Linked DNA regions of Homo sapiens: regions 2 and 3 are each reported to be linked to region 1. The links are microRNA targets in miRTarBase. Many come from high-throughput screens and were not tested one by one. Region 1 holds a microRNA gene; each other region holds the end of a gene's coding sequence.
Evidence for each region. Region 1 holds the annotated microRNA hsa-miR-1255a (AGGAUGAGCAAAGAAAGUAGAUU, at 2,945-2,967, opposite strand). A microRNA usually pairs through its seed, bases 2 to 8, with sites in the 3' UTR of a target mRNA and lowers its output. Matches are read on the target gene's strand: a 7mer-m8 pairs with bases 2 to 8, a 7mer-A1 pairs with bases 2 to 7 and ends in A, and an 8mer does both.

Region 2: the mRNA of GPX7 is a reported target of hsa-miR-1255a. Seed matches in the 3' UTR shown: 7mer-m8 at 3,652-3,658.
Region 3: miRTarBase lists MPDU1 as a target of hsa-miR-1255a. Seed matches in the 3' UTR shown: 7mer-m8 at 633-639.

Annotation. Positions count from the first base shown.
Region 1 is chr4:101,327,421-101,331,651 of GRCh38, forward strand. It overlaps MIR1255A (microRNA 1255a), which reads right to left and starts at 2,994; the gene lies at 2,882-2,994. All of the region lies in intron 1 of PPP3CA (protein phosphatase 3 catalytic subunit alpha), which reads right to left.
Region 2 is chr1:52,607,877-52,612,107 of GRCh38, reverse strand. GPX7 (glutathione peroxidase 7) reads right to left here. Exons shown (of 3, transcript NM_015696.5): 3 at 3,057-3,846. The coding sequence ends at 3,683. Among named protein-coding and RNA genes, the nearest start is that of GPX7, 7.6 kb to the right of the region's middle.
Region 3 is chr17:7,587,006-7,591,184 of GRCh38, forward strand. It overlaps MPDU1 (mannose-P-dolichol utilization defect 1), which reads left to right. Exons shown (of 7, transcript NM_004870.4): 5 at 1-12; 6 at 156-266; 7 at 421-1,207. The coding sequence ends at 546. SOX15 (SRY-box transcription factor 15) reads right to left here and starts at 3,089. Exons shown (of 2, transcript NM_006942.2): 1 at 2,139-3,089; 2 at 1,173-1,541. The coding sequence starts at 2,671. The coding sequence ends at 1,373. RefSeq lists an enhancer at 2,233-2,807.

The DNA of each region.
Region 1 (4,231 bases):
AAAGAAGAGCTCTCATAATCTTCTACTTTAAAATTTCACTCATAAGACACAAATTAAATCCACATTTGTGGGAGAAAAAAAAAAAAGACAAACAAAAAATCCAAGCATGTTTCTTACATATTTTCTCACTTGGTTCCCATGTACTACCACTGGAATGTTTAATCACTGGTTATTTTACTTTGATATTCCTATTTGAATACAGACTTACCTGATATTTTTTCTATACTTATAACATTCAAATTAGCTGTATATGTATTATAAATGTTGGGCATAATGACAACTCAGCATCAATTTCCTTATAAAGTAGAGGTTATTTCAGGCTAGCTTCAGAACTGAAATAAACACACACAGCAGGAAAGTTGTAATGCATATTTTGTTTTTTCAGGCCATGAAAACCCTTACATTTCAATAAATATATATTAACAAAATGAGAACTGTCAACAAAACACTCTAGTTGTATGAACGTTACTCAAATTTTTCATCTACATGGTACTGGACACCTTTCATAAACAACAACCAAAAAAAATATATTTGAAGTTCAGGGTCCACAAAAATATCACCAGGGAAAAAAAGAAGAAAAAGAAAATATGAACCTAAGCTGATTCCAGCAGGAAGAAATTTTCCCACATGCAGAGGTATTCACCATGAAGCAAGAGATGGTAAGAGGCCTCCGTGTGAAATTGGAGCTCCCCGAATTTACAGACCCAGGAAATCAGGGCAGGGTGTTAAATCTTCTCTTACACCTAAACCTATGACCTGCAACTACCTCAACCACAGAATTTCTCAAAGTGAATCAAACAAGGTTCAGTTGGATTCAAAATGCGTTTATGAATCACAAGAACAAACAACTGTCTCCAATCACCTGCCTCAGGAGAAGCACTAAAATTCTCAATCACCATCTTTTCTTTCAAACAATTTAAGAATTGTATAACTAGGCTAACCCTAAACATTCATCATAGTACAAGAATAGTTAAAAGTAGTAAATGAAAAATTCTGATCTCAAAACAATTCACATTTGCATCTAAAATGTTACAATGAAACCACATAACTCCCTCCTCAAAATGTTTCATGTGACGTCTCCTTGAAGTGGCTTTCACTTTAGCTATGTGTGGCTTCCTTTATTTGCTTCAGCAACAAAAATATGAAAATGAATACAGGCATACCTCACTTATTGTGTTTTGCCTCACTGCACTTTGCAGGTATTACATTTTTTACAAATTGAAGATTTATAGCAATTCTGTCACAAGCAAGTCTAGCGGTGCCATTTTTCCATCAGCATGTGCTCACTTTGTGTCTCTTGTGACATTTTGGTAATTCTCACAATATTTCAAACTTTTTCATTATTATTGTATGTTATGGTAATCTGTGATCCATGGTTTTGTATGTTACTATTGTAATTGTTTTAAAGCACCTCATGTCACACCGATATAAGACAACAAATTTAACAAATAAATGTGTGTACTCTGACTGCTGTGCTGACCAGTCATTTACCCATCTCTCTCTGTCTCTCCTTGGGCCTCCCTACTCCCTGAGACAAAATAATATTGAAAATGAGGCTTATTAATAACCCTAAAATGGTCTCTAACTGTTCAAGTGAAAAGTTGCACATGTTTCACTTTAAATCAAAAGGTAGAAATGATTAAGTTTATCATGCAAGGCATATCAAAAGTGGAGACAGGCCCAAAGCTAGGCCTCTTGCGCCAAACATCCAAGTTGTGAATGCAAAGGAAAAGTTCTTCAAAGAAATTAAAGGTGCTACCTAGTGAACACACAAATGATAAGAAAGCTAAAGAGCCTAATGCCAATATAAGAAAAGTTTTTGTGGTCTGGATAGATCAAACCAATCACAAAATTCTCTTAAGCCAACACCTAATCAGCAGCCAAGACCCTAACTCTCTTCAATTCCATGAAGGCTGAGAGAGGTGAGGAAGCTGCAGAGAAAAAGTTGGAAATTAGCAGAAGTTGGTTCATGACATTTAAGGCAAAAAGCCATCTCCACAACATAAAAATGCAAAGTGAAGCAGCAAATTTTAATGTAGAAGCTACAGCAAGTTATCCAGGAGACCTTGCTTAAGATCATTAATGAAGGCGGCTACACTCAATAACAAATTTTCAATAGGGATGAAACAGCCTTCTATTGGAAGAAGATGCTGCCTAGGACTTTCACAGCTAGAGAGGGGAAGTGAACTCTTGGCTTCAAATTTCAAAGGACAGGCTGACTCTCTTTTTAGGGGTTAATGCAGCTGGTAACTTAAGTTGAGGCCCATGCTCATTTACCATTCTGAAAATCCTAAAGCCCTTAAGAATTATGCTAAATCTACTCTGCCTGTGCTCCGTAAGTGGAACAACAAAGCCTGGATAACAGCACATCTGTTTACAGCATTGTTATTGTTTGCTGAATATTTTAAGCTCTTGGCTGAGATTGAGATTTACTGCTCAGGGAAAAAAAAAAAATCCTTTCAAAATATTACTGCTCTTTGCAATGCACCTAGTCATCCAAGAGCTCTGATCTTGTACACAGCACCCATTCTGCAGTCCATGGATCAAGGAGTAATTTAAACTTTCAAATTGTACTATTTAAGAAATATATCTCATAAGACTGTCACTGCCATACATAGTGATTCCTCTAACAGATGTGGACAAAGTACATTGAAAACCTTCTGGAAAGGATTCACCATTCTAGATGCCATTAAGCACATTCATGATTAATGAAAGAGGTCAAAATATCCACATTAACAAGAGTTTGAAATAAACTGACTTTAAGGAATTTAAGCCTTCAGAGGAGGGAGTAACTGCATATGTGGTAGAAATATCAAGAGAACTAGAATTAAAAGTGAATCCTGAAGATAGGACTGACTTGGTGCAATCCCATGATAAAATTTTAATGGATAAGGAGTTGCTTCTCAAGGATGAGCAAAGAAGATAGTTTCTTTAGAATCTAAAAAATCTACTTTCTTTGCTCATCCTTGAGAAGCAACTCAAAGGATTTCCAATACTACATACATTTAGCTGATAAAGCAACAGCCACCCCAAGACACTGACAGTTCAGATGATCATTAGCACAACGGTTATGTATTTTTTAAGTGAAGTATGTACATTGCTTTTTTAAACATAATGCTATTGCACACTTAACAGACTACAGTATAGTGTAAACATAACTTTAACATGCATTGTGAAACCAAAAAATTTGTGTGACTAGCTTTCCTGTGATATTCGCTCTATTGTGGCAGTCTGGAATATCTCCAAACCGACAATATCTCCAAAATATGCCTGTATAAAGCCACAATATCTCTAAAATATGCCTGTATAAAAAGGCAACGTCTACAAAAAAAGGCTAACAGTGTACAATAACTAGCACTACACTTTTTTTTCATAGCCTTAACCTAGGGGAAAAACTTAAGGTCCAATTAAAATGACTTTTTTATGGATCTCATAGTTGGTACTTCTTTTTATGTTTTGGATCGTTTGTGTTATAACACCATAATAAGGTCAATAATGCCAAGAAAAGCATAATTTATGGTCCAGTCCCATTGTTGTGGGCCTCAACTACATATTTCTACAAAGAAGACAAAAATATCTGCCCCACGAAAAGTATTAGATTTTTCTCCCACAGAAAATGCCACAGATGTTCAGCCAAAATGATTTCCAGGAGCAATGATATTTTATATAAAAAGAAATCCCTAATAACAAGTATTTTCTATCAATTCACTGACACCATCTAATATATTTGGCCTCATCTTGCCCTGAAGTTAGTGTTATGGTGGTAAAAGCCCAGGATCTGAGTCACGACTTGGAGTCCAAATACCTGATCTACCACTTACTCACTAGGAAACTTTGCATAAGGTACTTAAAATGAGGTAATATACATGCAAGGCATGGATATTAATGTCATTAAAATTTTTAGAATAGAAGGGAGGACAGGAAGTACTTTGCTTCATTATTCTTGTATAATAAACAGAAATATCTTCCCCAGTCAATTTTTTTGTTGTAAAAAAACAAATGAAGAATAATGTGCCAGGCATTGCACTAAGCACTGGAGAGATCAACTGGATAAGACCCTGCCCCTCAGAGATTTCTCAGTTAATGAAGAAAAAATGTTGCCAACATTTGTGATCCATCGTGCGTACAACAGACAAGTAGCAGCACAGACAGCTGGTAAGGGTTTCAGAGAAGTTTCACACAGGAGAGACAGATTAAAAGTGTTCCATGCAGAGGTAAAGCAAATGAAAAG
Region 2 (4,231 bases), not on the chromosome of region 1:
GTCCAGTGTGAACATGTGTGCAAGCTGGGCTTCACTGTGTGTGTGTGCATGCACACAAGTACATGCAGAGCTGCAGCTAAGAGGAGGGTGTGTAAGGGCAGCTGAGAGGCCACCATAGGAGGGGCTGTGGTCACCCCATGGACAGCCTTCACTTTACTTTTGTTAGCTTTTGAGAAGCACCATGAAGGGAGACTGTGAAAATCCTAAGCACGGTTTAACCCTTTCATTGTCCAGTGAGAAAACGGAGGACAGGAGAGAGGGAAGAATTTGCTGTGAGTCAGGGGCACAACAGGAACTTGAATCTGAGTCTCCAGACTTCTAGAAGAGTGACCTTAGATAAAGTACACCTGAAATTCTTATTGGCCAATGAATTATCTACCAGTGACTCTGCCCATCACCCCATTTTTTTTATAGTATTTTGGTCTGTTGCTCAGGTTGGAGTGCAGTGGCGTGATCATAGCTCACTGCAGCCTCAAACTCCCAGGCTCCAGTGACTCTCCTCACTCAGCCTCCTGAGTAGCTGGGACTATAGGTGTGCACCATCACACCTGGCTAATTTTTTGATTTTTTGTAGAGATGAAGTCTCACTGTGTTTCCCAGGCTGCACCCCAATTTTTAGCCACCTTTCCACATTTATATAAAGGTGAAATATGGATTTGACATACAAAATTCAAACATTACAGAAACTTAATGAAAATGACTCCTGTTATCCTACCTCAGCCCCTCGCAGACAACCACCATTAAGAGTTTGGTCTATATTTTTCCCTCTCTCTTTCCCTCCCACTTAACATTGTAAATTTTTTAAAAATTTGGGACAGGGTCCACTCCCATTGCCCAGGCTGGAGTACAGTGGCGCAAACACGGCTCACTGCAGCCTCAACCTCCTGGGCTCAAACAATCCTCCTGCCTCAGCCTCCTGAGTAGCTGGGACTACAGGTGTGAGTGACCACGCCTGGCTAATTTTTAAATTTTTTTGCAGAGACACGGTCTTGCCATGTTGCCCAGACTGGTCTTGAACTCCTGGGCTCAAGCAATCCTCCCACCTCTGCCTCCCAAAGTGCTGGGATTACAGGCGTGAGCCACCTAATGCACCCAGCAACATTGTACATTTTTAATAAAAACATTACACTTGTTCATACTGGTTTTTCTGGGTATGTGAATGTGTTCATTCTGTTTTACAACTTATCATTTTTTCACTTTTGGACAACTTTCTATGGTAGCATATGGAGACTTCATTCATTCATTTTAATAACCATATTAGTTTATAATTTGAGGCAAGGTCTCCTCTGTCACCCAGGCTGAGTGCAGTGGCATGGTTACGGTTCGCTGCAGCCTTGACCTCCCAGGCTCTAGCAATTCTCTCACCTCAGCCTCCTGATAGCTGGGACTACAGGCATGCACTGCCATGGCCAGCTAATATTTTTTTGTAGAGGTGGGGTCCCACTATGTTGCATGGTGGCGTGTGCCTGCAGTCCTAGTTACTCAGGAGGCTAAGGATGCAGTAAGCTACGATCGAGCCACTCTTCTTCAGCCTGGGCAACAGAGTGTGACCCTGTCTCAAAACAAAAAGCAAAAACAAAAGGTATGAGCATTTTGTTTTAAAAGATATTGCCAAATCACCCTCCAAACACTTGTGCCAGTTTATCGTACCACAGTTTATGTGAATGCCCATTTCCTCACATCCCTGCCAACCAGGGGTATTATCATTAAAAAAATATCTTTCGGCCGGGAATAGTGGCTCACGCCTGTAATCCCAGCACTTTGGGAGGCCGAGGCGGGCGGATCACTGGGTCAGGAGATTGAGACCATCCTGGCTAACATGATGAAACCCCGCCTCTACTAAAAATACAAAAAAAAAAAAATTAGCTGAGCGTGGTGGTGGGCGCCTGTAGTCCCAGCTACTCGGGAGGCTGAGGCAGAATGGCGTGAACTTGGGAGGCAGAGCTTGCAGTGAGCCGAGACTGTGCCACTGCACTCCAGCCTGGGTGACAGAGCTAGACTCCATCACAAAAACAAAACAAACAAACAAAAAACTTTCCAACTTCAATGAGGCTGGACATCTTTTTGTATCCTTATTACGCATCTATAGTCTTCCGTGAACTATCTATTCATCTCCTTTGCCTATTTGTTATTGAGGTGTACTTTTGGCTAGTGGATTACTCAGTGAATTTTTTTTTTTTTTGAGACAGAGTCTCTCTCTGCTGCCCAGGCTAGAATGCAGTGGCGTTATCTCCGCTCACAGCAACCTCTGCCTCCCGGATTCAAGCGATTCTCCTGCCTCAGCCTCCAGAGTAGCTGGGATTACAGGCACCTGCCATCATGCCCGACTAATTTTTATATTTTTGTAGAGACGGGGTTTCACCATGTTGGCCAGGCTGGTCTCAAACTCCTGACCTCAGGTGATCCACCCGCCTCAGCCTCCCAAAGTGCTGGGATTACAGGCATGAGCCACTGTGCCCGGTCATGCCAGGCTAATTTTTGTATTTTTATTTTTTTATTTTTATTATTATTATTATTATTGAGACGGAGTCTTGCTCTGTCGCCCAGGCTAGAGTGCACAGGCTGGAGTGCAGTGGCACGATCTCTGCTCACTGCAAGCTCCGCCTCCCGGGTTCACACCATTCTCCTGCCTCAGCCTCCAGAGTAGCTGGGACTACAAGCGCCCGCCACCACGCCCGGCTAATTTTTTGTATTTTTAGTAGAGACGGGGTTTCACCGTATTAGCGAGGTTGGTCTCGATCTCCTGACCTCGTGATCCGCCCGCCTTGGCCTCCCAAAGTGCTGGGATTACAAGCGTGAGCCACCGCGCCCAGCCTAATTTTTGTATTTTTAGTAGAGATGGGTTTTCACCATGTTGGCCAGGCTGGTCTCAAACTCTTGACCTCAGGTGATCCACCTACGTTGGCCTCCCAAAGTGCTGGGATGACAGGCGTGAGCTACCGTGCCCGGTCACTGAGTTCTTATTGGGCAATAATGATTGGCTTAACCAAAGGCCTGGCAGCCTTTGTACCAAACTGCTAACACTGTTTACCTCTAGGGAGGGAGACTATGGAAAATGAGGAGGATACTTTCATTTTTATTTTATATCGTGAGGTATTGTTTGGATTGTTACAATGAACTTGCATTTCTTTTGTAATGAAGAAAATAATACAGAGGAAATAACAACAACTAAACCTTTGGCCTGGATTATCATCGGCTGGAAATTCATGTTGGATGCAAGTTTTTATTGATAACAAGTTATTTTTTGGTTTATATGCAAAAAATGTTCATTGAATGCCTCCTATTTGGCTGGCACTGCCTAGGCACTTTCACAGGTATTTCATCCTAATCCTCACAACAGCCCTATGAGGTAATCATTGGTCCCAGTTTACAGAAGCCTTGGGTGGGAGATTATTGCTTGATATACTTCTATTTGCCACACATTTTTGTTGGCAAGACGTTCGTATCGGCTGGTGATTCACTGGTCAAGAGCTCTCATTGGCCAGGAGTTCCTATTTGTTGCTGTAAGATTCAAATAATCAAAATACTAGAATTTTTCCCCCACAAGAATGATGGGACCAATGGCATAAGAGTAAAGGAAGGAGAGTCAGTGGGTCTCTCCCTTTGAAGCACCATTTGAGTTTGCATTGGTCAGCCCCACACAGGTGGGCGGGATGAGGTGGTGGAGGAGGAGACGCGGTGGTTATAAGTCTTCTCGCTTCAGTAGGATGAGCTTCCTCACGAGCGCTGTGATCTGGGGTCTGACCTCCTCCACTGACACAGTTGGGTCCCAAGCCCCTACCACCTTTCCATCTGGGGCTACTAGGTACTTCCAGAAGTTCCAGGTGGGCTCCTTCCCAGAAGTCTCTAGAGAAAAAGGAAGGAGAGCAAAGCGTGCTACCCTGCGTACCCTCTCCTGGGACTTCACTCTCAGTGTCCATCTTTCCCTGGTGGCAGCTAATCCTGATGCCCAGTCCACACCCCAGACCACTCCAACCAGAATCTCTGAGGGTGAGGCTCAGGCATCAGCATTTTTCAAAAGCCCCCTGGGAGATTCCAAAGTGGGGCCGAGGTTGAGAACGACTGCTGTAGGATTCTGTGACGTGCTTGATAAAGTGGTATCAAATCCTCCTTTATTAATGACTTCGAACTACTGAATAGTCTACACCCTATTCTCTAGTTCAGTTTTAATGGTTTCCAAATGTTAGTCCATGGACTGGTTTCATCAGAATCACTGGGGGTCAGGGGAGTG
Region 3 (4,179 bases), not on the chromosome of region 1:
GTGGTGGGGAGGGTGGGTACCAGGAGCAAGGGACAAGATGTTGTGGGGGCAGGGTGGGGGGGAAGAGTAGAAGATCAAAGTGTGGGGGTGTTGTACTTGGGGGAGCATGGGAAGAGCTCAGGTGACAGAGCCAAAGGTCTCAACTCCTCCCCTAGCTTCTCCAGGCAGCCACCAACTACCACAACGGGCACACAGGCCAGCTCTCAGCCATCACAGTCTTCCTGCTGTTTGGGGGCTCCCTGGCCCGAATCTTCACTTCCATTCAGGTGAGTGCAACATCTTCCTTCTAGAAGGCACTAAAACCTCGTCTTACTTCTCCCAGCTAAGGGCCAAAGCTGCCCCGTGAGGAACCTTTGTCCATAAGGGAACCTTTCTTGAGCTATGCTGAAGGGTAACCCTGGCTCTGTCTCTTGCAACCAGGAAACCGGAGATCCCCTGATGGCTGGGACCTTTGTGGTCTCCTCTCTCTGCAACGGCCTCATCGCCGCCCAGCTGCTCTTCTACTGGAATGCAAAGCCTCCCCACAAGCAGAAAAAGGCGCAGTAGAGCCAGCTACTGGAGTCATTCCGTTTCCACTCATTCACCCAACCTCAGGGTTCTCCCCATCTGAGCCAGCCTGCTGGTGTGACTTACTCATCCTCCATTCCTCTGCACTTGCAGACTTTCTGAGCCAGGGTTTTCTTTTAGTGGAAACAAATGGTTGATGGATCCAGATCCTTAGAAAAGGAGAGGATGGGGGTAGAGTCTCCCAAGCCAAAATTTTGACATTTGAGTGCTTTCGTAAGCCCTGTACATGTACTATTAATTCAGTCATTCAGCCAAGCCTCCTCCTCTAGCAGCAATTTCCAGCTGTGTAACACTATCCTGGGCAAATGTTTTACCCTGTCCTCCAGCCTCCCTGCTTCCCTTCTGGCCCTGGAAGACTGAGTCTGGACGGCAGAGTGGAGGGACTGGGAGGCTGTGGCTGCCTCCCTCCCTCAGCCCGGCTGGGACTGTCTCCCGGACCCCAGTGCTGGGGTGGGGGAAGGGGGACGGAGAATGACTCAGGCAGGGCCCCAGGGTGGGGTGAGGAGGTTCCTGCTCTGGCAGGTCTAGGCGGAAGGGAGTGGAGATGGGGCTGGTTCCTGCTGCAGTGAGGGGAACAGATGGGACAATAAAGACTGGAGACTCAGTTGAATAATACAAAACTGTTTAATACTACCAAAAATATAATTGTATGTTGTGCGGCTCTCCCTGGCTATCATGGGAGGACTGCAGGCTGCCTCTGAACTGTAGTCCAACAGGAGAAAGGGTTGACAGCCTGGGGTAGGGGATGCTGCTGGATTAAAAAAGGAGGATGAGGCCCGTCCCGTGAGGTCTGCGTCCATGAGGGTTAGAGGTGGGTTAGGGGCATGGGGGCACCAGCAAGGGGAGGGTTGTATGGAGTGGGAGAGCCAGGGGGCAGGTAGTGGGTATAGGTGGGCAGCAGTTCCCCCTGGAGCCTAGGGTCACTCTGAGGGAGGGAGCACGGTGAGGGGGCTTCCAGTTTGCAGTGGGAAGAGCTGCAGAGAGAAACAAGAGGTTAGAGGGCACTTCCCTGGGTTGGAGGTGAGTCTGGCCAGTTCTGGGCAGACAGGGTAGAGCGTGCCACCCACCCAGCCCTGGCTACCCAGCCCGCTGGGCGCAGCAGGCATGGAAGCCGACCCCGGGATGGAGAGCCCGCGGCCCTGTTGGGGCACGCTCGGGAGCGGGCTTGCGTGCTGCACGGCTGTTTTCCTCTTGGGGAGTCAGGCCAGGAAAGGGCAGAATGAGCTCGGCCTCTCCTTGCCCTGGGGGCTGGGAGAGGAAGCTGGGTCACACACAGGCCAGAAGCAGGGGGGAAACGGGGCATCTAACTAGGACACAGTCGCATCCAGGGGTCAGTCACCTGACCCTACAGGGCCCACCACCTTCAGACTGAGATGGAAACGCCCTCTGGGAGAACCCTGATCCGCCCCACCCTACACAGGCCCCGGAGGTACTGGGCCTGCGCCCGCCACACCTTGGCCGCGAGTGGCCTCTGCTTGGGTGGGCTCCCGTCCTCCGGCATCCGCCCCCACCAAGGCTCCAGAAGAGGGGCGCATGGGCCTCCGTCTTCGGCCCGCTTCCCAGGCACTCACCCATAGCTGCCAGGCAGGTAGGCTGTCGAGTAGCTGGGGGGTCTGTACCCAAAGCCTCTGCTCGGTTGGGTGGTCGCGTACCCCGGCCCCCAGAGCGGGCCGCCGCTGGCCAGGTTGCCTCTTCCCTGTCCGCAGCGGGAAGGTCCGGCGCCCGAGCTCTTGGCCTTGCGCCGAGGCCGGTACTTGTAGTCGGGGTAGTCGCGCAGGTGTCGGGCGCGGAGCCGCTTGGCCTCCTCCACGAAGGGCCGCTTCTCGTCCTCGTCCAGCAGCTTCCACTGCGCGCCCAGGCGCTTGGAGATCTCGGAGTTGTGCATCTTGGGGTTCTGCTGCGCCATCTGGCGGCGCTGAGCGGAGCTCCACACCATGAACGCGTTCATCGGCCGCTTCACCTTCTCCAGGGGCAGCGTCCCGGGGGCCGCGGGGCTCCCAGCGCCCTCCCGCTCCTGGGGTCCCGAAGATGAGGAGGCAGCAGCCGTGGCAGCCGGAGGCTCCAGGCTCCAGGCCTGGTCCTGTGAGGAGCCTGGTAGCGCCATGGGTTGGGAGAAGCCTTAAGAGGGCGTCCTGAATGCCCTCCCCTCAACGTGAAGCGTCGATCCTGAAAATGGAAAGGTCTTCCCAGTCTGGAGTCGTTGCCGAGGAACTTGGGTCCTTAAAAAGTGTATTTTATCCCCAAGCCCAGAGCTTAAACCGGAGCCTTTGCTTCCAACCTGTTCGGCACACTTTGGGGAGAGTCGAATGCAAAATCCGCTGTCTGGTGCCCCGGCACTGAAGAGGTGTTCTGAGGCCTACTGACTGGGGGACCCCCGGTCCCTCTCCCCGACCCGCAGCTGCGATCAGACCGACCTTCCGTGGAGGGGGTAAACCATAAACCCCTTTGTGGTCTCCGGAGTTCCGACAGCTGCCAGGCGCGGATAGGCCAGACCTCTCCCACCTGGGCTCAGCGTTTGTGGCAGGCGGGCCAGACCTGGGAACAGCTTTTAAAGACTGACTCCGCCCCTGTCCCTCCCATAAGACTGCACCTCCTTAAGGGCGCCAACATCCTCAGCCCGTAGGTAAACCCAGGTGTCCTGTTTGTCCCAGCCCCCAACACCCTCAGGGTGCCACGCCCCCCGCCCCCCCCACCCAAGACCTGATGTCAGGCCTTCCAGCCCGTTGCTGATTGCCTCCCCTCCCTGAAGCACAGGCAATTTAAAGCCAATTCTTTCCACAATGGGATCAAACACAGGGGGATGAAGTGCCCTCAGGGCCCGAGTTGTGCTGAGAGGAGCTTGGGAGCATCCCGGACCACCACCCCAACCCCTTTCCTGGTGCCTGTTGCTCCTCAAATCCCAGAACTGCCCCTGGGGCAAGAAAGGCCGAGGAGGGAGACCATTTTTGTTTCCTGAGTCATTCCAGCAGGTGCTTGGGCCGTGATTCAACCCCTTTCCCAAGTGAGAAAACTTAAGCCCTCCCAACTCCAGTCCCTAAACCTATATTTCTCCACTGCTATTGAATTATGGCAAGTTTTAGCTTCAGTCGTCCAAGTCATGAGGGGGGAGCCAGGAAACCCAGGACAACTCCCCAAGTTAAGAGGTCTGTGATGCGCATGCCGGAGAAAAAGCCTGGAGCCAGAACAGAACACCACCAAGAAGGCCGGACCCCGGGCTCCAGAGGCTGCTGTGAGGGAACCCTGCTCCCCACTCTGCCCAACGGCCCAGCCCAAGCCCCAGGCCTCAGGTAATCGGATTAAGCAGCCTGCCTTGGCTCTCAGCTTCTACAGGAACAGCTCCAGCTCTGAGCAGCCCTGCCTAGCCTGTGCTGTGACTCAGGGTATAGGAGTGGCCCAACTCCCTCTACCAGCAAACTTGGGGGAGGGGAGAAGCAACAAGGCACAAGCCCCCCTCCTCTGAACCAGGAGGGAGAACCTGGGCCTGGGGAGTTTAGGAATGTCAGGAATTCCCAGAAGTAAGACCATCTTTGGGACAAGAGACAATGAAGAGAAGTCAGATGTGGAGGAACAGAAAACAAGAGCCAGGGGCCAGGGCAGGTCAGTCCTAGAGAA